Regions from separate parts of the Homo sapiens genome. Here region 1 is linked to region 2. Evidence: fine-mapped expression QTL. A gene starts in region 2. The other region holds a variant in brackets. All regions are shown on one strand. Distances are between the middles of the regions.

Region 1 (12,234 bases), 120 kb before region 2:
TTAGCCAGGATGGTCTCGATCTCCTGACCTTGTGATCCACCCACCTCAGCCTCCCAAAGTGCTGGGATTACAGGCATGAGCCACCGTGCCCGGCCCCAAAAGTGAGCTCTTAATCATCAGGCTGGGATTTCCTCTGGCCTAAAATTTCACCAGACAGCACATGGTGTTAACATAGACTCAAGGCAGAATATTTTGTCTTCAAAACACTCTTGTGATATAAGGATTTTACTTGTTTTTGTTTTATTTTGAAGAAAGTGATTTCATTTAAAGTAGATCTGAGTTAGGTAAGAATAAAATTATTTATATGAAAAGAATTTTCTAACACATTAATCCATCAAACAAGGATTTATTCAGCACCCATGAGCTGAAAAGAAGTTTAAGGCAGTCCTTGACTTCAAGAAATTAATCATTTACTTAGGGAGCTAAGAGTAAAGCTTAAGGAATAAAATTAGAGGATAATAAACAGTAATAATAATCACCCCATATGTGAGTACTTACTGTGCCCAAGGGGCTTTACCGAGTCTAATTTAATCTTTACAACACAGCTGTGAGATATGTTCTGCTGTTATGCTCATTTCAGACGAGGAAACCAAGACTTGGTGAAGTGAAGTGATTTGGTCAAGGAAAAAAATCATTGAGCTGTTCACTTAAGATTTGTAGATTTAATATAAATGAGTTACGCTCTGATAAATCTTTATTGAATGGGAAACCCTTGAAAATACGGACATTTTTTGCTTTCTCTGCTCTTGAATTTCCTATTCCCCAATAATTTAGTGCAAAATGTTAAAGATGTATTTTGGCTTGTTTCATTTTAGGAAAATAGCAGGTCGGGTCAAAATGGCGCTTTTAGCCTTAATGGCTTGGGTGCAAATAGGCATAGCTTGTGACTGTGAAATCAGAGGTCCTGGGTTGCAGAGGGGTCCTGGAGCTGACACAGGCCAATGGGCCAGTACAACCTGCTTGGTTCCCCAGCTGCATGAACTGTTGGCCCCATGGTCAGTCCTGACCAGAAATGCACAAGGGTATTTGTCCCCTGGGTCCTCAAGGTCAGCTCCTCTGTCTCCCTCCAACACACCCCAAACCTTATCATATCCCTCAACCTCCTGACCCTGCCACCCATCTCTGCTTTTCAGGTTTGCAGGCCCCCACCCAGAGGCACCTTCATCATTCCTCCCTGACGTGTCGACTTTCATTTTCCTAGGACGAGTCTCATTTGACAGTCTCCTGCCCATATTTCTAAGCTCTCTGGGTCTCGTTGTGCTATTTCTCTGTCCTCTCTGGGGTTTGTAACACCAATCATCTGCAGGTTTCATTAGCATGCTGTTTACCCCTGTCTTTCAGATCATTAATGAAGATGTGAAGTGAGACACCAATCCTCACAGCCCCCACCACGTGCTCCCTCCCATGCCTGGCGCTGCTGGAGTCATTATCCTTCCTGGTGTGACAGGGTCAGAACCAAACCAATTTGCATCAGTCTTTGGTGATGTTGTGAAGCGTCGCCTGCCCTGCAATCCTGCTGCTGTAACAACTGCTTCAGCTGTCTGTTCTGGAGTGCTCTTCGCTCCTTTGGAAGACTGATCAGATCTGGCCACCCCAGTTCTGGCTGAAAGCCCTAGAGCGACCGCAATGGTAGGGCAGGATTCAGGGCTACACATGGCTGACATTGTTCCTTCTTCGTTTTGCTCTTCTGAGCTGGACAGAAAGCAGTCCCTCTTTGGAAAACAGGATGGACAAGTGCATACATTAGTGGAGGACGCAGCAGATGTGGCAGGCATAGAATTTTACTCATTGCTCCATCTATTTCTATCAAGGAAAATGGGGAGTGCTCCCAATTTCCGCCCATTTTCTAGCCCAGGCCTAGTCAGATGTGTGGGCTTGTATATTCTGGGAACCTGGGGCTGATGTGGTCAAGTCACTTCTTGGGGACAAGGTCAATTCTTCTCCATTTTCTCATGTCATTTGGTCCTGAGGGTTTTATATCTTCTTTAGCAATTCCATGACTATGCTTCTCATCCTGCAGGGAAACTGACTTTATATACACACTTGTCTCCCAATAAAAGTGAGAACCACCTCCTACATATCCCTTGTGTCTTCCAGACTCCAACTCAGATGAAATGCACTTCCTTCTCTTTCCTGATTGTGCAGCGCCTCCAACTGGTTGTTTGTGATGAAAACATGAGTATAATTACAGACTCTTCTCTGACCCATTTCTACTCCTGACCCCCAACTCATCTTTTCTTCCTTCTCTCCAATTGGGAAGGGGAAGGGAAGCAAGGAGAAAGTAGCGAAGGAAACTCTCGCAAACACATCTGAAGTAAGATGCTGCATGTCCAAGAGCTGGGGGAAACTTAACGCTACGACTCTACAGCAAAGTTAGGTGAGACATATTTTCTCAGGGTAGGTAAGGAAAGACTGAGGAAAAAGATAGCTATTTGGCAACACTGAACACCTACTGACTGAATGATTTTTTTCTGCTCCTGGGCAAAGGCTCTGAGGAGTGTGGGGAGAGATGGGACTGTCATGAATAGGGAACAAGTTTTTTTTTTCCACATTACATGCAATGAGGTAGAGATCCTAGGGTATAGCTGGATGCTTATTAGGTGCTCAGTAAACACTTATTGGTGTACAGATTGATATACATTTGCATACTAAAGAACAAATTTCATTACCATATACAAAGGTTATCGATGAACTATGTATGTATGCACATGTGTGCAGGATAACAGGCTGAGCTGAGAAGCAGGGCTTTTAAAATCTGTATATCCGGCCCCAGAGGCTTTTTTCTCCCTGTATTATAAAATCAATACCTGTTTCCGTAGAGAGTTTGGAAAATGTAGAAGAAAACAACAATACCCCATATTCCTCCAACCAGGCAGCAAGCACTATTACCACCTTCGCCTATTGCCTTCCATTCACCACCCCACTGTAATTGTTATATCTGGCCATTTCACTTATCCTTATGACAAAACCATTTCTTCCATGATATCATAACCTCTTTGCAAACACACCAAATGGCTGCATGGCAGTTCGCTACGGGAATGTACCATGATTTACTCAACAGCTGCACATCTGAACAGCCTTTGGGCCACTTGAAGGCAGAGGCAGCAGCAGCAGAGGTGGATGGCGGGAAGTAGGAGGCCAAGGTGAAGCAGCTCGCAGGACCTTGCTTCCCCATGAGCCCCCCGACCACCATTCCTCAGAGATCATTTCTGGTTCCAATCCTCACATATCCTTCATGGGTCCTGCCACAGCCAGCACTTCTCATTTCTACTCAGCCTCAAGTCACTGACTTTCCCAACTTGACTCTTCTCAGCTGCTCCTTTGTGTGAAGTCACTGGCTCAGGCCAGCTTGGCTCCTGGGGCTTGGCTGCGTCCAGAAAGGCCCTGGGATGTGACCTTCAGCCTCGCTTGACCCTGAGGCCTCAGGCTGCAGTCAGGCGAGGGTCTCTCCATGGGCTCCCAGAGAAGGCAAAGCCCAGAGGAGGCTGCTGCGGGAGCAGAAGCCTGAGTGGACCCTGCTTAGTCCTGGAAAGGGACCTGACAGGTTTGCGAGAACCTGACAAATCTCACACCATAGAAAACTATCTGGCCCAGGCACAGTGGCTCATCCCAATACTTTGGGAGGCGGAGGTGGGCGGATCACTTGAGCCCAGGAGTTCGAGACCAGCCTGGGCAACATGGCGAAACCCCATCTCTGCAAAAAATACAAAAATTAGCCAGATGTGGTGGCACGTGCTTGTGGTCCCAACTACTTTGGAGGCTGAGGCAGGAGGACTGCTTGAGCCCAGAAGGCAGAGGTTGCAGCGAGCTGAGATCGTGCCACTGCACTCTAGCCTTGGTGACAGAGGGAGACCCTGTCTCACCAAAAAAAGGAAGGAAGGAAGGGAGGGAGGGAGGGAGGCAGGGAGGGGGGAGGGGGAGGAGTGGGGGAAGGAGGGAAGGGAAGGGAAGGGAAAGGAAAAAGAAAACTATCTGGAGGAATGTGGAGGACTGGTGGGTTAGGGGTAGGAGGTTATGACTGAATCAAACAGGGAAGTGTGTTCCTGTGCAGTGATTGGAAAAGCATGGATGCTCAGAAAATACTAGGACTACAAAGATTAGCAAAGTACAGTGATTTGAGGCTTATGTATGCCAAGTTCAGTATCAGTTCAGAAACTTGCCAATGTCACAAAGTATACCTTTCCCTCCCTTGCTTAATGCCACTGTCTGTAGAGTCAACAATGGTTTCTACTGAGTGTCCATGCTGGCACAGGGCCTCAGTGGGTGGAAGGATGGGGGTAGGAGAAATAGTAAACTGTCAGCTCTTCTGAAGGGTTACAGAAATGGTATTCTGCTTAACTGACTAGTCAAGGTAACCAGAAGTTACTATATTTTCCCTATAGGGATTGCCAATGTTTTTTTTGTTTGTCGTTTGTTTTTGTGTGAGACAGTCTCACTCTGTCACCCAGTGTGGAGTGCAGTGGTGCAATCTCAGATCACTGCAACTTCTGCCTCCCAGGTTCAAGCAATTCCCTTCCCTCAGCCTCCTGAGTAGCTGGGAGTACAGGCACCTGCCACCCTGCACAGCTAAATTTTTTTGTATTTTTTCATTTTTTTTTTATAGTAGAGACGGGGTTTTGCCATGTTGGCCAGGCTGGTCTTGAACTCCTGACTTCAAGTGATCCACCCGCCTCAGCCTCCCAAAGTGCTGGGATTACAGGTGTGAGCCACCATGTCCGGCCTAGGGATTGTCAATTTTTAACAAATGTGAGTATAATAAAAAATTAAATACTACATGGAATCTGTTTTATAGATCTATCCATCAAGCAATTATATACGTAATGGGTAAGATATGCCATGCACCATTCTCAACACTTTGCAATACTCGTTTAATCTCTACAGCTACCCTAGTAGTTAGGTGCTATTTGCACCCAGGCAGCCTGACTTCAGAGCCTGTGCCCTTATCCATGATGCTGATATGACTCTTTAAAGTGGAAAAAGTCCTAAGGAAACCAAGGCTTAGAGAGAAGTAACTTACACAAGATCACCCCTGCCTCTCTCTCAAAATCCAAGCACTTACTATATCTTAGACCAGCAATGAGGCTATGAACACCGAATGTCAAGGCACAGTTCATTCTTTCAACAAATGCTTATTTTAGCACCTATTATGTGCCAGGTAGTTCTGTTTATAACCAAAGAAACTGTAGGAAATTGAACAAATTTGGATCAATTCTTTGGCATGTCCCAAAAGTTATTTTTAAAAGTCAAATCTTATCATTATCCTCTCTGTGCCTCAGAAAACTGAAGGTAGAAAAACAATGCAACTCTGATTACTTGAGTTTTTTGGCTCCTCAGATTCTACATAACTGAATCTCCTTTGGTATTGGAGGTCACTTTCAGAAACATCAGGTATAGAGATCGAGACAGAAAGCAGAGGGCAAGAGAGAGATGAAAATATGTGAGCCCAATTCTGCTCCGAACTTGGGTTTAATTGAGATTCCAACTGCCACTCTCCCCTGCATTCCTTTGTCCCTGGCTATGACCAAGTTTACGGCTGTATCGCCCCAAGTAATCCCCGTAATGGGCTGCAATCCTGGGGGAGCTGTTTTTGTTCATTAAGTGACCAACCTCTGAGCCACATGGAGCGCGGCCAGTTACAGCTTCTTGCCCTGGCAGATGGGCCACTTTTCTGTTTTAAAAAAACAGGGATCTTTCAGGAGAGAGGAGATAGTAGGCAGGGGTTGGGGACACAATCAGGGACATAAAGGTGATGGGTGCTAGAAATGAAGGCCAGAGTGAGGGGGGCAGTGGGTGCCCCTTCCAGGTCATGCAGTCTTCTAGGGCAGAATTCACTCACGTGCTGTGTGTTAGCTTTCTTTGCAATGGTAACTATAGTTGTGTAGGGCTTACAGTTTGTGAAGGGCTCAATGTAGTTCCTGGAGTGATGCTACCAGTCTGCAGAGGTGGGAGGAGTGAGGGGGCCATAGACAGGAGGCAGCGAATGAACAGAGTAGGGCAAATAGCTGAGAGGGGGCTTCCCCTGAGGGTCAGAAATTCTCAGTGCTTCAGACTCCAGCTCAAGTGACAGGGGCCAGGCTGTGCCAAGAGCAGTTCTCTCAAGCCAACTGACTCTTACCTCTCTGCCCACAGCCCCAGTGTCTGCTTCTTGAAGTTGGGGAAACATTGCAGCAGCTGCTTGTTGGGAGACCCGTCCCCTCACTGCACTGCCCCACCCCCTCCCCGCCACCTGCCCCACCACCCCATGTCTGTCCTCTGGGTAGAGTTGTGTGAAGCGGAAGACAATTTGGGGCTTATTAGTGTCCCAGGGAGACATGTAACTTGTGTTGCTGGGACCCAAACAGCAAGAGTCTTAGCGGCAAACTCCAGCCGAGAAAAGACTGAGGAATTGTCTCACCTAATTACAGGGAATGGCCCTCTTTGTGTTTGTGATTCGGTACGGTTGTCCGATCGCTTTTGATCGCTTTTCTCTATTTGCTGGCTCAGGCCATGCTGGAATTGTGCTAATTAGAAGAGAAATGGACAGAGTGATCCTGTCAGCCCTGGTTACTGGTGGGGACAAAGCAGAATATTATTCTGAGGCAGTGTTTTGTGAGGGCCCTTCTTCCAGCTCTCATTAGGAGGAAGGGGCCCACAGGAGGGGAAGGTTCCAAATGCCTGGCCCAGCTAATGGAGCACTGGGGTGTTTCTGTGCTAATTAACAGGCTTTGCCAGCACTCACGCCAACCAGGAGCCTCACAGTTACACCTGGTATCGTCTGAAGCCCCCAGCTGCTCGAGAGGAAAAAGCGCCAGGCAAAGGGTGGGAAGGCCAGTGGCCTCTTTAGGCATAGACAAGGACACACACCCCAAATGCCAAAAAGCCTACATAGATAGGAAAAATCAGTTCCAGTCCATCAGAACTTACAACCGTGGAGACACCACCCTTTGCCACTCTCTGGGGTTGGGGGTTGCAAGACTCTCTGGTGAAACAAAGCCCACATAGGGACCAGGTATCCTTGTAGCTCTCACGAGATGAAGAAAACAGAAAATGGAGAACATAACCAAATTCTTGGAGACGGAGTTAGTGCAGAAGCTGAGAACTGGTAAGAGACTGTGTTATTTGG[C/T]TTCTGCGACCATCCACCTTGGCCCAACTGTCCATTTCCTCACTTCCTGCTCTGCCTGTTCACCTTCTTGTGATGTCTTAATCCTGGAGGAAACAGGAGGGGTCAGGGAATCCCACTGGAAATGAAATTTCTCGGCTTCATTTCAAAGCTCCTGTGGAAGTCCAAACACACTTCTGAAGCCACAGGGACAAGGGAATGACTTTCATCAGTTCCATTTTCACTGCCTTGATCTGGGAGCATCCAGAAGAGCAGCTAGAGAACTAAAACCACGGAGCAGTTAGCAAGCATCCATTTAAAAAATATGACAAAAATGGAAAGATAAAAATGAATGATGGCATTTCAATATCAACACAATTAATACCCTGTGAACTTTAAGTGTTCTAACCTATGGAAGGCAGGCCAAGCAAATCAGCAGAGGCCTAGAATCTGTGAGACTGAAGACAGCAAGAAATAATGAGAGTGCTGGTAAGAAAAAAATGTCAATAAGAATTTGCAAATGTGTCTCCAAGCTCCAATACTATGCTTTTCAGAATGTTGCTGCTCACAGCTGACAGATGCTTTACAGGATGGTATTTGGAATGGCAAAGGAAAAGGGAAAAAATATCTGTAGGCAAATAATAAACAATTACTTACCGTAAAAATAGTCTCTAAAGACTTAGAACACTCCTAACACTGTCCCTACTTAGTCAATCAGCCATGCTTTTCTAGATCACAGAAATCTACTGTTCATCCAGATGTCTTTTTTGGAAATAAATGATGGGCCTATGATGAGAAGCAATTTGCTTTCCTTAAAATGAAATGCTTTCTTTAAAAGGGCATATTCTGGTCCAGAGCAGGTAAACTATCAATGAGTGATAGCAGTAGCAATAATGAGTACTTCCTCTTTTCTAGTTCTTGAACATGGTTGAAAAGGAACCCACACTAAGGGATTTAGAAGATGGCAGATAAATACTTGTTTTCAATCTATCATGTGTAACCAGAAGCCTGCAAGCAAACAGGTTTTGAACCCCTAGTTCAAAGACACTGAAGAACTAGATGTGCAGGAGACAGCTATACCTTGAGAAGCTTTGAATTTAGTAGGGCAATAAGATATGTACTCAGTGTCAGGCGTAGTGGCTCACACCTGTAATCCCAGCACTTTGGGAGGCCGAGGCGGGAGGATCACTTGAGGCCAGGAGTTCGAGACCAGCCTGGCCAACTTGGCAAAAACCCGTCTCTACTAAAAATACAAAAATTAGCTGGGCGTGGTGGCATGCACCTGTAATCCCAGCTACTAGGGTGGCTGAGGCAGAGAATCGCTTGAACCCGGGAGGCAGAGGTTGCAGTGAGCCAAAATTGCACCACTGCACTCCAGCCTGGGCAACAGAGTGAGACTCTGTCTCAAAAAGAAAAAGTACTCAGACCACTTAAATATAAGGCAGACTATGGTAAGAGTCACAGGGATGATATGGGTAAATGCTATAGGAATGTAGGGGAAGGACCATTTCCAGCTGGATCATCAGGAGATTATAGGAAGCATAGGTTTGCCAGATGCAAAAGGGATCCAAGACCTTCTAGGAACTCAAAGGCAGGAGCAAAGGCACTCAAGTGAGAAACTGGGAACTGTTCAGAGTAACTGCAACAGAGACTTCATATATAGGAGAGGAAGAAAACGAAACGGAAGGGTTGCTTAGGATTACATGTAGAGAGTCTTAAAATGCCGGGTCAAGAGATTGAGACTTTATTAGTAGACACGGGAAGGTATTAAGGGTTTCTAAATACTACTTTCGGGTGTTGGGCAGTGGTAGGATAGAATGGAAGGCAGGAGACCAAGTAGATGACTGTAAAGCCCCCAACTATCCATTAAGTATATTAAGGGGGAAAACAGTAGATTATTTATCATTACAGTTGTACTTTCTGGGGAGGTCTGTGCTTTAAATATCCAACTCGGCCCTCTGAGGAAAAACTCACCCTCCTGTAAAAGGGACATATTTATTATGAAGACACAAAAACCATCACATACAAAGTACAATACTATAACATCCTGAAATACATATACACACATACTGTACATAAATTTATATTATCAATATAAAAATACATCATTAACATTTCTAAGGATGACAAATACTAAACCAATAAATATTGCAATTCTAAAACATCTACTTACATTAAGTGCTGGTGAATAGGATGACGGTAAAAGAAAGAGGACAAAGCGGACCAGAAAACCAACCACCTGGCTTCCAGTTACAGACTTGAGTTGGTTTGGGGGAGGTATCCCAATCAATTTCCCCAAACACTGAAAAGTGCCTGATGTCATCAACTCTCAAAAACAGAGCAAAGGAAGAATTTGACATTATGGCACTATTTTTTGGCCACATGCGCGCGCGCACACACACACACACACTCTTCAACCGCATTTAGTGAGATACAGAAATATCAATCGATAATAAGTTTAAATTAAAATCAAAGCCCCTACAACCTAACCTTCTATGTAGCACCCCAGCAGAATGTTTTACTTCTCATACTCATCTTTCCTATCTTGTGTTAAGTCTTTTTTCCTTTCAATAAGTAAAACTACATTGATGGTCAAATGAGAGAAAAATCCAGCATTAATTCTAGCATGAGAACAAGGCACAAATGTCAGAAAAGGTTTAATGGATCAGCTGTTAAACTGAAGAGTGCCATGCCCTAGCAAACACTCACGACTCAAAACCATAACTTTTCTTGTGTCCAAACACCATCAGACTATTGCCACAGGGATATTCTTTTTTTTTTTTTTTTTTTTTTTTTTTTTCTGAGACAGAGTCTCACTCTGTTGCCCAGGCTGGAGTGCAGTGGCATAATTTCGGCTCACTGCAACCTCCACCTCCCGAATTCAAGCGATTCTCGTGCCTCAGGCCCCCAAGTAGCTGGGACTATAGGCATGCACCATCATGCCCAGCTAATTTTTGTATTTTAGTAGAGACAGGGTTTCACCATATTGGCCAGGATGGTCTCGATCTTTTGACCTATGATCCACCTGCCTCGGCCTCCCAAAGTGCTGGGATTACAGGCGTGAGCCACCATGCCCGGCCCCAGGATATTCTTTTGTGCAAAGTTTAGGAAACTCCATGCACTTCTCAAAACATCAGATGCTGGGGACTGGCTTATACAAGAAATATGGAGAACACATATAATAGATTTTAGCCATGGGCTAGATTTTCAGATTTTAACAGAGACAGATAAGTGGTGAAGAACTCCATGAAAGTTGTATTTAAGTCAGAAGATTCTTTTTCGTGTGTGTGCGTTTCTATTATATAGATGAACTATTTCATATGTGCTGTCAGAGGGGACAATCCCACCATCCCATAGCATGTTACTTTAAGGTCAATTAGGGCTTCTAGCTTTCAACCAAATGGGAACTCCTATAAACCATCCCGTTTCTCTTGTCTTTCAGGCTATACTGACTTTCTTGCTTGAAGCTGTAACAGATTAATTAGAACTCAAAAGTCCTTTCTGTCACCTTCACATTGGTCTTTAGACAACCTTGGATGGGCCTTTCACTATACAAGCTAATTCCAGGAGGGACTCAGGGATCCCTCTGCCCGAAGTCAGAACTAGAAGGTGGGGCTGGGAAGTAAGGAATGAAAAGCAAATGGGACTATCATAAGAGGTATAGAAGTTTTAAAAAACAGATATACATTTCGAGAAGATTCTGGTTTCTTCAGCTGGGGATTCTGGGAACTTAGTATATACTGGAGAGTTCACAGGTCAGGCTGCATGGTCTGGTCCAGAATCTACTTGGTCTCTGGTCTCCTCACATCGTAAACACTTTCTAAGAGATCAAGAACAATTCAAAAGAACCCATCCAATCAACATGTCACAACTGACTGCCATGACTGAGTCAAATCAACCGTAAGATCCTGGGGCTCCTGAATCACTTCCAGAAATGAGAAAGCAGGACTTCGACCTTTAAGAATGATATGCCCTCAGCTGTTACCAATATCCGAGGCTAAGAAGGTTCAAGTCTGAAAGTTGATTGAGTAACTGCAATGATCCTTGGGTAGAGCAGATTCTTCTCTTGCTGCTGAATGTCCTCAGACGTGTAGAGTGCCAGGAGCAGGGGAGAGGGCAGTCCTGGAGGTACACCCTCTGGCCTCTCCCAAGCAAGCAGTGAGGTGTGCATTGTTAGAGGTGCACCGGGAAGGGAGCTTGGTTTCGGACCCCAGGACATCCTGTCCGCAAGCAGCTGCTACTTCTTGGGCTTCTCTAGAATATTGAGGAATTTCCCCCGTGTCATCTCTCTGGCTGGAATCACAAAGCAAACAAATGATCAATGAAAACCTAAAATCGGAAAAAAGAATCATAGGAAGATTTAATTTAAAAATGCAGATTGATTTAAATTATATATCAAGTTGCTATCACAACAGATTCAATCATCACCAACTAACCTAAAAGGGGGTAAAAACAAACCACTATAGACAACTAAAACTGTACAAAGCTATTCTGAAGTTGGCAATTGAGATACATGCCAAATGACTGGGAAAGATTTTATCATCCACCTTTAAACAAATCACCAGGGGATTCCCCCAAAACCTATCTCTGTCTCTAGAATCTAACCTAATACTCATGTTCACTATCTCAGGGGGTTTGCTCTTGAAGCCTAAAATCCAACCAAGATTAGTCTTCTCTGGGTTGCTGGTCTCTGGACATTTATAATCTCAAATCAAAATTAGAGATCATTTACCCTATCTCTCAGCAGTGTTAGTCCCTGGATACTGTAATATAACAGGGTTTATATTCCCTCAGTGCAGTTCATCTGTGGATGGTGTCATAAAGTAGGGTTTATAGAGCTTTGGTCTTCTCTCCCTTGGCATTGTCAGTCCTTAGCTATTTAATATAGCCAGCCAAGGTTTATGTGTCTTTCTCCGGCTTTCAGCACCATCAATCTTTGAATGCTATAGTTACAAGTGGGTTTATACAGCTACTTTCCTACATATAAGGCTCCAAAATGAAAGTAAAACATTTCTCAATTACAAGGGCTACTCCAGAGGTCTCCCATTTTAGATCTCAGAAAGCATACGTAGTGTAACAGCCCCTTCCTCATCCTCATCCTCATCCTGCAAGGCCATGTTTTCAGATTTCTTAAATGGATTTAACAGTGCAGAAAG
Region 2 (12,234 bases):
CAAAGATGCTTCCAGATCTGTCCCTAGAACAAAACATCCAGATGAACCAAGAAGACAGGAAACACATTAATGTATATGATACTTCAATCTCAAAGGACATAAACTGGAACACTCACCTGGAAGTCTAGAGATATGAGTTCTGTAACTATTGATGCCACTGGTCCGTGATAGAATACAAATAAATCATTCTCCCTTACCAAACCTCACTCTTTCAATCTATGAATGGGAATGATATTTTATTGGGAGTGTTAAGAAAAATGAGTATCAATGAACCCACCTGCATCTTCATTCATACTCTTGTGCTTTCCTCCAGTTACAATGAATTAAGTGTTTCTCCTTCCATGAAACAGACTCTTCTGATAGCACTCTAGATGCCATCTTCTCTTGCTTTATCAAGGACATCATTTGCATATCATCTTTCTCAGGTACCATCAGTTTCTACCTTCTCTAGCCTCATCTCAGTGTCACTAAAGTTTGTACACAACCCCCCACTGCTAAATTTGACTAGCTTCAAAATAAATAAAACTTTACAAAATAAGTAACTCTTTAAAAATCTCTTTAAAAAGGAGCAGTACCAATCAAGCTGGTTGCAGAATTTCTGTGTTTCAAAAAAAAACCCCAGCCGGACATGGTGGCTCATGCCTGTAATCCCAGCACTTTGGGAGGCCAACACGGGTGAATCACAAGGTCAGGAGTTTGAGACCAGCCTGGCCAACGTGGTGAAACCCTGTCTCTACTAAAAATACAAAAAATTAGCTGGGTGTGGTAGCAGGCGCCTGTAATCCCAGCTACTCAGGAGGCTGAGGGAGGAGAATTGCTTAAACCCGGGAGGCAGAGGTTACAGTGAGCCAAGATTGCACCACTGTACTCCAGCCCAGGCAACAGAATGAGACGCCATCTCAAAAAAACAAACAAACAAACAAACAAAAAACACCAGGGCAGGTGGGGTGCCTCATGCCTATAATCCCAGCACTTTGGGAGGCCAAGATGGGTGGATCACTTGAGGTCCGGAGTTCAAGACCAGCCTGGCCAACATAGTGAAACCCTGTCTCTACTAAAAATACAAAAATTGGTCAGGCATGGGGGAACACACCTGTAATCCTAGTTACTGGGGAGGATGAGGCAGGAGAATCGTTTGAACCTGGGAGGTGGAGGTTGCAGTGAGCCAAGATCACACCACTGCACTCCAGCCTGGGCAACAAAGCAAGACTCCATCTCAAAAAAAAAAAAAAAAAAGAGTGCACTGTTATACATGCCCACTTGGGCTTTGGGAGTCACAGGCACCCACCCCTAGATGCTACCGTGGGGCTGGAGCCCAAAAGTGCTCGCCCTGACTCCTACACCTGCCCATCTGCGTGCTCCCTCTCCCATAAGAGGATTGAGTGCACACAGACAAGCCACACCCCTGTCGTATGTCCTGCGGTTAGGGAACTCCCCTATTTCAACATGAGGACTTTTATCTTCATCTGTATGCCAATGACTCCATATTTATATTTCCATTCCCAACCTTTCTAAAGAACTACAAAGGTTTATGTCCAAGTGGTTATTTGAATCCCTCTCTATTTACATATAAAAAAACTGCTTAAGGCCAGATGCAGTGGTGCACGCCTGTAATCCCAGCAGTTTTGGGAGGCCGAGGTGGGTGGATTGCTTGAGCTCACGAGTTTGAGACCAGCCTGGCCAACATAGTGAAAACCCATCTCTACAAAAAGCAAAAAAATTAGCCAGGTGTGGTGGTGTCAGCCTGTAGTCCCAGCTACTTGGGAGGCTGAGGTGGAAGGATGGCTTGAGCCCAGAGGTGGCAGCTGCAGTTAGCTAAGGTCACACCACTGCACTCCAGCCTGGGTGATAGAGCCACATCCTGTCTCAAAAAAAAAAAAAAAATCCCCACTTAAACTTTAAACCTAATTATCTTCAAAACCATATTCCCCCAATCTTCTCCCATCTCAAGAAATAACACTACCATAAATTCCAATTCTCAGATCAAAAACCCAGATGTCATCCTTCATGCATTCTTTTCCTTCACCCTTCCATAACCAATCCATGAGTAAATCTAGTCGTTTCTACCTTCAGAATACACCCTGAAATCAAATAACCCAAGGAACCATCACTTCTTTCTTGGACTACTTCAACAGCCTCTTAACAGATCTCTCTGCTCCCATTCTTACCCTTTCCCCTTCACACCCCCGGAATCTATTCTCCATAAAGAGGCCAGAATTGATTTTTTTAAACGTCAATCAGTTCGTGTCTCTCTCCAGCTTAAAGTTCCTCCCAGCTAAATCTGTGAATGTGTATCTACCACACTCTATAAAATCTTACTCAGCCTCTACCTAATTCTTTGACATCATTTCTCTTCCACTCTTCCCTTGCACACAGTAGTACTCAATATTAACATTTGTTGAGTTTTTATTGTATGCTCAGTATGCTAACCAGTTGCATAACTAGTTCATTTAATGCTATAAACAGCAGTTCTTAACATTTTCTGGGTAACCACATCTCTGGAAATCTGGGAAATAAAATGAACTCACTCCCCAGAAAATATACATACGTACAAAATGTACTTTTCTCTAAACTGAATTTGTTTTGCCAAATATTCCAAAGGAATTTCCAATGGCATTTTAATTGTAAAGAACTCAACTAATACATTGCCTTAATTAAAGCATCCAAAAATTAGCTTCTCTTTGTTACCGATTTCTGAGGAATGTTCAACCATAACAAAAGTAAAGTTATTGGGCCAGGTACAGTGGCTCATGTCTGGAATCCCAGTGCTTTGGGAAGCCGAGGCAGGAAGATTGCTTGAGCCCAGGAGTTTGAGACCATCCTGGGCAACATAGTGAGACTCCATCTCTACAAAAAATAATAAGGTGGGGGCATGGTGGCTCACGCCTGTAATCCTAGCACTTTGGGAGGCCGAGGTGAGTGCATCACCTGAGGTCAGGAGTTCAAGACTAGCCTGGGCAACATGGTGAAACCCCGTCTCTACTCAAAATACAAAAATTAGCCAGGTGTGGTGGCGTGTGCCTGTTATCCCAGCTACTGGAGAGGCTGATGCATGAGAATTACTTGAACCCAGGAGGCGGAGGTTGCAGTGACCCGAGATCATGCCACAGCACTCCAGCCTGGGTGACAGAGTGAGACTCCGTCTCAAAACAAAATAAATAATAATAATAATAAATTAGCTGGGCATGGTGGTGTGAGCCTATAGTACCAGCTACTTAGGAGGCTGAGATGGGAGAATCGCTTGAGCCTTTGAGGGTGCAGTGAGCTATAATCATATCACTGCATTTCAGCATGGGCAATAGAGTGAGAGAGACCCTGTCTCTAAAAGAAAGTTAAAAAAAAATTATTGGGGGTACAATCTAATAACCTACATGGGTGACCTTATGATACCACAGTCTGGGATAGAACTCAGACTCTGCTGTGAGTCTTACTCTCATAAATTAAGTAATTAGATGGCTGTATTTGAATTTCAGTTTTCTCCTTTTCAAAGACGCTCCAGCAAATTTATCACGAAAAAGACAAAAGAGTAAATGACAAACATATTAAAATAAATATTATCTGAATTAAATTTTAAAGACAGTGACAGGTGGAACACTAAAAATAGAAGTGAAAGAGCTAGGCCGTGGAATATTTTGGAATGAGATACTTATTTAGAAGCTGAATTTAAGTTCAAAGTGCTTGACTTGATTTTTTCAGATTAAAAAGAAAACATTAGGTGGAGAGGAGTGAAACTTTGTAAGAGATGAGAATGAAAACTTAAAAATCAAGAGTGCAAATAAAGTGACCATAGAGATGGCTAGAAAAGGAAAAAAATTTAATTTTTTTTTTTTTTTTTTTTTTTGCAATGGAGTCTCGCTCTGTCCCAGGCTGGAGTGCAGTGGCGTGATCTCGGCTCACTGCAAGCTCTGCCTCCCGGGTTCACGCCATTCTCCTGCCTCAGCCTCCTGAGTAGCTGGGACTACAGGCACCCACCACCACGCCTGGCTAATTTTTTGTATTTTTTAGTAGAGACAGGGTTTCACTGTGTTAGCCAGGATGGTCTCGATCTCCTGACCTCGTGATCCACCCATCTCGCCCTCCCAAAGTGCTGGGATTACAGGCGTGAGCCACCACGCCAAGCCAAATTTAATGTTTTTAATACTCTTCCTGGCCAAAGAAAGGAAACTAAATTGAGAGATGACAGGGGAAAAAAATCAAACTCAAGGAACACATCTCTAAAATCCCCAAAGTTTGTAAAAACAATTTAAAAATAAACTAAAAAGTTTAATAACAATTACTTCTACTTGTATTACTTGGCTTTTTTTTTCAACTGTGGTGAAATATACATAAATTTTACCATTTTAATAACTTTTAAGTATACATTTCAGTGGTATTAAGTACATTAATTGTGCAATCATCACATTCATTTCCAGAATTCTTTCACCTTCCCAAACTGAAATTTGGTACCCATTAACAATAACTCCCTATTCCCTTGCCTGACTTTTTAAATGCCCTTCTTTCTGGCAAGAGAAGGACATTTTTGCAAGAGCGCACCCAGGCAGGAGAATCTCTTTTGACTCCAAACATCCATAATTTCTTTTTTTTTCCTTCTTTTTTTTCTGAGACGGGGTCTCGCTTTGTCACACAGACTGGAGTGCAGTGGCATGAACATGGTTCACTGCCGCCTCCACCCCCTGGGCTCAAGAGATTCTCTTGCCTCAGCCCCCCCAAGTAGCTGGGACTACAGGTTTGTGGCATCACACCCAGATAATTTTTGTATTTTTTTGTAGAGATGGGGTTTCACCATGTTGTCTAGGCTGGTCTTCAATTCCTGAGCTCAGGCGATCTGCCTGCCTCAGCCTCCCAAAGTGCTGGGATTAGAAGTGTGAACCACCACGCCCAGCCATAATTTCTAATACAGTATGTACCTGCGCTCACAAAATTTAAGACTCGGTTAAACTTAAAACTTAAGATCAAGTAATATATTATTTCTGCATATATCTAATCAATCTTTCAATAAATGTTAATTAAAGACCTACTGTTCGTCAGGCACTGTGCTAAACCTGGATCCAACTATGAACAAGACAAACTTGGAATTTACAATCTAGCGCAAAAGGGGCAAAGTTAACAGAGTAACTATGCTGACAAGGAAGATACTGAGATAATGAATAATGGTGGGAAAGGGCAACTCCAGATACTGTGTTCTAAGAAAGACTCTTTGGGAGGTGACATCTAAAAAGAGAACTGAAACTGAAAAAAAAAAATGTTTATATGTTTGAGTCATCTTTTGGTCTCCCAAAGCACCTAGCATTATGCCTTTCATGTAGCAGGTACTTAATATAGCTCACCTTGGCTTCAATTTCTTCATTCCTGCAATGAACTTCCAAGATTCCTTCCAAATATAAAATGTTTTTGTCTAAGGGAAGGAAACCTATATATCAATAAAATCGATATATAGTTGGGATGAGGATGGTAGAACTAAAAATGAGTTTAAAAATGACTGCAAGACCCTAACTCTCTAAAGCAGAACCAAGAGGAAAAGCATGGGAGTATACCAAAACAACTTAATTGTTACTTGAAATGACTTGCATTTTACACAATATATAAACAGAAATCGTTAATTCACTCAGCCTTAAGAAACAACACGTAAAGCAGATGGAAGACAGGTTGCGACCTGTGCAAGACGACACTTAAAAGCTCAATACTGATTCTCCTCGCGACTCTCAGGGCGAGGGGCCGAGAACGTCCCCCGCTTCTCTTGCTGCCACGGCAATGGTCCCAAACTGAGGAGACAGGAGAGAGATCATGTTTCTCTTGCGGTTCAGTATCGAGATGAGGTCAGCCAGCAGCCCTGCGAGGGTTTGTGAGAATCATTCCATCCGTGCGCTCAATCAGAAGAGAACTGATCCTTTCAATGGGTACCCCAAGGAAAAAACTACAGTAAGCCACGTCCTCCAGAAACATCTCCTCCTCGACCCTCAGCCTCGCCCAAATAGAGATAAGGAAGGCACAGGGCGACCCCCCTGTCCTTTTACCCAGAATGAGTCCCTCCCTAGTGCCCTCCTCCACACGCCTGGTACAGAGCGGGGAAACTGGGCACCTCCGGAGCTGCTGTGAAGAACCGGTGAGCTGAAGACGGCGATGGATCTCAAGAAAAAAAATAAAAGGGAAAGGAGAAGAGCCCAAGAAAGAAATGTATGTTCGAGGGGCAGAGACAGAGTGGATGTTCCCAGTAGAGCAAAGAAGGAGGCTGCAGGCAAAGATCTCTAAGCCGGCTCTTACCGTCTGTGGGAGACGCCATCTTCCAACCCATGTCACGTGACGTGGCCAACCGTCGGCGGGAAAACGAGGTTCCATAAGCCACGCCCCCAAAGAGAAACCCTATCCCCAACTCGCAGCCCAGTCTCATTCCCTCGCCTCATAGGGCAATCTTTGCCTAGCCCCGCCCCTAAGTATAGCCACGCCCCTTACGCGGATGTTGAGGTGGAGCGACTGCAAAATTCTTGAAGGGTCTTATTTACTTTTTTCAGTGGGGGGGTGGGGCCTCGGTTCCGCCCTTGGCCAATCGGAGTTCCAGGTTAGGGGGGCGTCTTCCCCGTGTGCTCGGTAGGGAGTGTCCAAGTCAGGGGCGTCTTCTCTACCTCCGCCTACGTCATTGGCTGAGGTGGCAGAGGGCGAGAGCATTTTCGCTCCTAACCAATCACTTATCCCCAGGACGGGGGTGTGAGGAGAGGAATCAGGTGTTCGGACCAGTGATTGGCTGGAGAAAATAGTCCTCCCCACCAATGAGGAAGCCTGGCAGGATGGAGGGCGAGGCCTGGCAGCTGTAGTGCTTCTGGGCAGTAGAGGCGCGGGGTGCGGAGCTAGGGCGGCCGAGAGCCATGGCGGCGCTATTGGCGGCGGCGGCAGTGCGAGCCCGGATCCTGCAGGCGAGTGAGGGTGGTGCCAAGGCACCATGAAGCTAGGAATTGGATCCTTTCCGTCCGCTCCCTGAGCCATCCTCGGGCGGGACCACCTTCTTGGCCCAACCCCTTTTTGGCCAGACCTCCTACCCGACCTGTGCGGCCCTGTCCCATGCCCAGCCCTCACTTCATAACCTCCCTGGTCCCGGATCCAACCCTGGGCTGTTACCCTTGGCCCTCTACCCTTTTACTCCTAAGCCTCCTCTTTTCTGGCTCTCGCCCACTCTCCTTCTCCAGCTCTGCCCGCTCCCTGCTGTCACTCTCTTGCCCTCATCTCTCCATCCGCCCACCGTCTTTCCTTTTTACCTCTGCACCAGCCTTCTCTCTCTCCCCCAGAAACTACTCTTTTTGGTTACTCTGTCCCCTGCCGTGAGCGTCCACTTTGCCATTGCTCCCTTCCCCCACCCTACTTCACTATCCGTGGTGATCTGAGGTAAGGGGGAGGGGGGACGCGAGGGGCGAGGGTCAGTGTATGAACTTTGAATTTCCTTCTAGAGGTGGACTCTAGATTTTCACCAAAGGCAGCCATTTGCTAAGCTATTTTCCCTAAGTGTGGCTCTTTGTATTTTCCATGGACTGGCTGTCCCCTTTCTTGCCAAAACTTTGAGTTAAACTTTTTCTCAGCTAAGTTACAGTTTACATAGATAGGGCACATCTACATAGATAGGGTAGATAAGGGCACACAGTTAAAGCTACCAGTATGTTCCATGTATGTTCAAGGTACCAAACATCTTTAAAACGGGTGATAGAAAGTGGGAGCCAGGTAAGACAAGAAGTCTAAGTTCCCACCCCAAAATCAGCTCTTCTAGTGCTACACACCCTCATCTCTGCACTTGGGGGATTGAGTCCTCTCTGAAGCCAACCTAAGGAGAAATGGTAAAGCTACAGGAGTTGCATGCCTGAGGCCTGTAATCTCCAACTCTGTTTATAGTCTTTCCCCTGTTCATGGCCTACCAAGGATTTAGAGTATGTGGCAAGATTTACCGCAGGCAAGAAACAGTCTGCAAGAAACAACAGTGCCGTTCTTATTCATTACATCCAGTCTGAGAATTTCCTCTATATTGCTGAGCTTTTAGGTAATATTAGTATTCACCAGGTTTCCGTGAGTTCTAGTAAAGAAACTTGGGCAGTTTTAAGATTCTTGGCAGAGTCAGCAAAGATTCATTTTTAAATATGCTATTTAATGGGGAAGGTAGAAAGGATGAGTTTGAAGGGTTTGGCAGATGGTCTGGCCTCACTCATATTTCTTGCTGCGATCCTTGTTCTGTTCTAGTATCTTTTTTTAGTAGCAGGAAAACAAAGTTTCCACCCTATATTTTTCTTACCAACTTCTTGAAATCTTTTACTGAAATTGGCTTTTTTCCTTTGCCTCCTCTTCCCCTCCCATCACAATGAGTCATTGAGAACCTTAAGAAAGTATTTTGTCCTTTTCCATCAAGGAGAAGAATCTCTCTTTCCATGTACTTTTATTTCAGAAACAGACACTATGTATTTTCTGATTCATTTGGAGAAACTTCTGAAGTGACCTGGAAAAGAACAGATAGAGTAATCCTCAGCCAACTAGGAGTTGTAACGTGAATCTTTGATTAAAAGTTCGATAAAAAGTAGCCTACGGGCCAGGCGCTGTAGCTCCTGCCTGTAATCCCTGCACTTTGGGAGGCCAAGGTGGGTGGATCACCTGAGGTCAGGAGTTCGAGACCAGCCTGACCAACATGGTAAAACCCCTTCTCTACTAAAAATACAAAAATTAGCCGGGTGTGGTGGCGGGCGACTGTAATCCCAGCTACTCAGGAAGTTGAGGCAGGAGAATCGCTTGAACCCGGAAGACGGAGGTTGCAGTGAGCTGAGATCGTGCCATTGCACTCCAGCCTGGGCGACAGAGCAAGACTCCATCAAAAAAAAAAAAAAAAAAAAAAAAAACCTCGATTTTGGCAGCCATGAATATTAGAGAACTATCAAAAGGATTTATAGAGGAGAAAGTTAATGTTTTCAATTATTTTAAGTATTCAGCTTATTTTTCTCTGCCACGAAGAGTAGTCAAACTTAACCTAAAACCTCTCTCTGCTCCTTGTGATATTATCACTCCCATGCAGAGATAAAGGAATGTTCGAGACAGGGTCTCGCTCTGTCACCCAGGCTGGAGTGCAGTGGTGCAATCACAACTCACAGCAGCCTCGACCTCCCACGCTGAAGTGATTCTTCCATCTCAGCCCTCCGAGTAGCTGCAACAACAGATCGTGCCCCCATGCCAGCTAATTTTTGTATTTTTTGTAGAGACAGGGTTTCACCATGTTGCCCAGGCTGGTCTTGAACTCTTAAACTCAAGCTATCCTCCCACCTCAGCCTCCCAAAGTGTTGGGACTACAGGCACGAACCGCTGCACCTGGGCAAGAAAATTACTCTTGAAGAGATGTAGCGACTTGCACTGTCGGTGATATGGTTACCGAACTAGTAACTGATGGGGCTGAAAATTCAGAACTTAAGTCTTGCCATCTCTTTCTATGTTAGGCACTGACATAGGCTTACAGTAAAATGCTCACTGAAAGCTCCTTTATTGTACTGCAATAAGTGATAAACAATAGGAGTATCTGGGATACTGTGGGGACCTAGGGAAAGAGCCAAGTATTGCAGGACTAGCAGGCCATGAACCAGGAGAGGAAGGAGTTCCTTATAAAGGATATAGCAAGTAGGAAGTAAACATCTAGAGAGCAGCAGTTTGGGGTGACTGGCCACAGGATAGTTTCTTCAGCAACAATGCTAATGGGTGTTTCTTAGGAAATGAAGAAAAGATAGAAGATCGAACCTGTCAAAAAACTATATGAATATGTTCTATTATACCAGATGTAGTGCTTTTTACATCCTCTTAACAGCAGGGAGGCTGTATACAAGTGAAAAAATAAAATTTAAGTGGCCTAGAATGCTCAAGTTGGCTGATCAGTGCATTGTCTGCCAACTTGAGAGTACTGAAACAATATCAAATGATTGCTTGGCGAGTACTCATTCTTTCATTGTGCAAAATATTGCTTACTAAGTACTTACTCTCTTCCAGGAATTGTGCTAGGGGCTGGGGACACAACAATCTAGTGACCTCAAAGGAGAGAAAGTTAATCATTAGACAAGCTATTATTTCATAGCGTGAGATGAGAAATAAAGGAATTTGGGTGCTTTATGAGCTTCACAATCAGCTGCTTACCATAGACCTGAGGTTGAGACTTCCTAGAGAAAGTGATGATGGCTGAGTGGGGACCTAAAGGAGTAGGAATGAGCCAAGGAAATTAGATGAAACAGTGCCAGGCAAGAGAGAGCAGCATGTGCAAGAGCAAAGAAAGCAAGACACACGTTAAATTGCAGGAGCATAGAGAACAGGGAGGAAAGTAGCCAGTTATGTAACTAGAAAAGCAAAGATACTATGTAGCGTTTTCTAAGCAACATCAAGGGGATTAGTCTTTATTCCAAGGGCAGTGGAAAGCCAAAGAAGAATTTTAAACAAGGGAATAATCTGACCAGATTTATGTTTCAGAAAGACCCTCTGATTATGGGATGGAAACTAGATTCAGAAAGTTTAAGAGTAGGCTGGGTGTGATGGCTCATGCCTGTAATCCCAACACTTTGGGTGGCCCAGGCAGGAGGATCGCTTGAGGCTAAGAGTTCAAAACCAGCCCTGGCAAGATAGGGAGGCCCCATCTCTACAAAAAAAAATTTTTTTTAATTAGCTGGGCATGGTGGCATGTGCCTGTACTCCTAGGTACTTGGGAGACTGAGGCAAGAGGATCACTTGAGCCTGAGAGCGAGGTCGTGTGCACCTGTGGTCCCAGGTACTTGGGAGGCTAAGGCAGGAGGATCACCTAAGCCCTGGAGATTGAGGCTACAGTGAGCTGTGGTTGTGCCACTGCACTCTAGCCTGGGTGACAGAGTGAGACTCTGTCTCAAAAAAAAAAAAAAAAAGAAAGAGTTTAACATTAGAGGCTGAGAGATGTGTTAGGAAGCTATTATGGAAGGTCAAGTGAGAGACAATGATGGTATAGACTGGGATAATGGCAGGACAGCTAGAGGTGAGTGATGTGTTTCAAACAATTCTAGGACAGACTGCCAGGAGTTTTTTGCTTCCCTGCAGAGAGAGAGGGAGGAATTGGAATAGTATCTGGGTTTCTCCTTTGGCAACTTGTTAAGGAGTAGCCCTATTTACCGAGAGGTGGGCTATAGGAGGCATAGCAAACTGGCAAAAGGAAGATGCAGAGTTTAGCTTTTGCTTTTGTTTTTTGGTTTTTGTTTTTTTAAGATAGGGTCTCGCTCTGTCACCCAGGCTGGAGTGCAGTGGCACAATCGCAGCTCACTGTAGCCTCAATCTCCAAGGCTTAGGTGATCCTCCTGCCTTAGCCTCCCAAGTACCTGGGACCACAGGTGCACATGACCATGCCCAACTAATTTTTAAAATTATCCGTAGAGGTCACATGTCGTGGCTCACACCTGTCATCCCAGAACTTTGGGAGGCCAAGGTGGGCAGATCATTTGAGGCCAGGAGTTCAAGACCAGCCTGGCCAACATGACAAAACCGCATCTCCACTAAAAATACAAAAAATTAGGCCAGGCGCAGTGGCTCACGCCTGTAATCCCAGCACTTTGGGAGGCTGAGGCGGGCGGATCATGAGGTCAGGAGATCGAGACCATCCTGGCTAACATGGTGAAACCCCATCTCTACTAAAAATACAAAAAACTAGCCAGGCATGGTGGCGGGCGCCTGTAGTCCCAGTTACTCAAGAGGCTGAGGCAGGAGAAGGTGTGAACCCAGGAGGCGGAGCTTGCGGTGAGCCAAGATCGCGCAACTGCACTCCAGCCTGGGCGACAGAGTGAGACTCTGTCTCAAAAAAAGAAAAAAAAAAAAAACAATAAGAAAAAAAAATTAGCCGGGTGTGGTGGCATATGCCTGTAATCCCAGCTACTCAGGAGGCTGAGGCAGGAGAATCGCCTGAACCCGGGAGGTGGAGGTTGCAGTGAGCCGAGATTGCGCCATTGTACTCCATTGAGTGCAGGCAGGTCTCAAATTCCTGAACGCAAGTGATCTTCCCACCTCAGCCTCCCAAAGTGCTGGGATTACAGGCGTGAGCTACTGTGCCCAGCCACCTTTTTTTAACATGTGCCCAAGTAACATCCAAATAGAGATGTGGTAAAGATAATTACGTGGGTATCACCTGAAGAGGAAAATACTGGCCAAGGACTAAAGAGTTGGGCATCATCAGGATCTAGATAGTTAAGCCATGAGAGTTGATAAAATCACCCAAGGAGCATATACAGA

The links.
Region 1: its variant is fine-mapped to the expression of LIN52 in whole blood (INTERVAL, PIP above 0.99).

Annotation. Positions count from the first base shown.
Region 1 is chr14:74,198,059-74,210,292 of GRCh38, reverse strand. LIN52 (lin-52 DREAM MuvB core complex component) reads right to left here. Exons shown (of 6, transcript NM_001024674.3): 6 at 8,800-11,371. The coding sequence ends at 11,316. It overlaps LOC105370564 (a long non-coding RNA gene), which reads left to right. Exons shown (of 3, transcript XR_944025.3): 3 at 1,342-1,432. Among named protein-coding and RNA genes, the nearest start is that of VSX2, 35 kb to the left of the region's middle. RefSeq lists a silencer at 7,920-8,120. The variant C/T (reference allele first, on the strand shown) is at 7,103.
Region 2 is chr14:74,079,021-74,091,254 of GRCh38, reverse strand. It overlaps LIN52 (lin-52 DREAM MuvB core complex component), which reads right to left and starts at 6,299. Exons shown (of 6, transcript NM_001024674.3): 1 at 6,262-6,299; 2 at 1-23. The coding sequence starts at 6,280. It overlaps ALDH6A1 (aldehyde dehydrogenase 6 family member A1), which reads left to right and starts at 6,802. Exons shown (of 12, transcript NM_005589.4): 1 at 6,802-6,908. The coding sequence starts at 6,861. It also overlaps a transcript of BBOF1 not described here. RefSeq lists enhancers at 5,181-5,270, 6,211-6,390.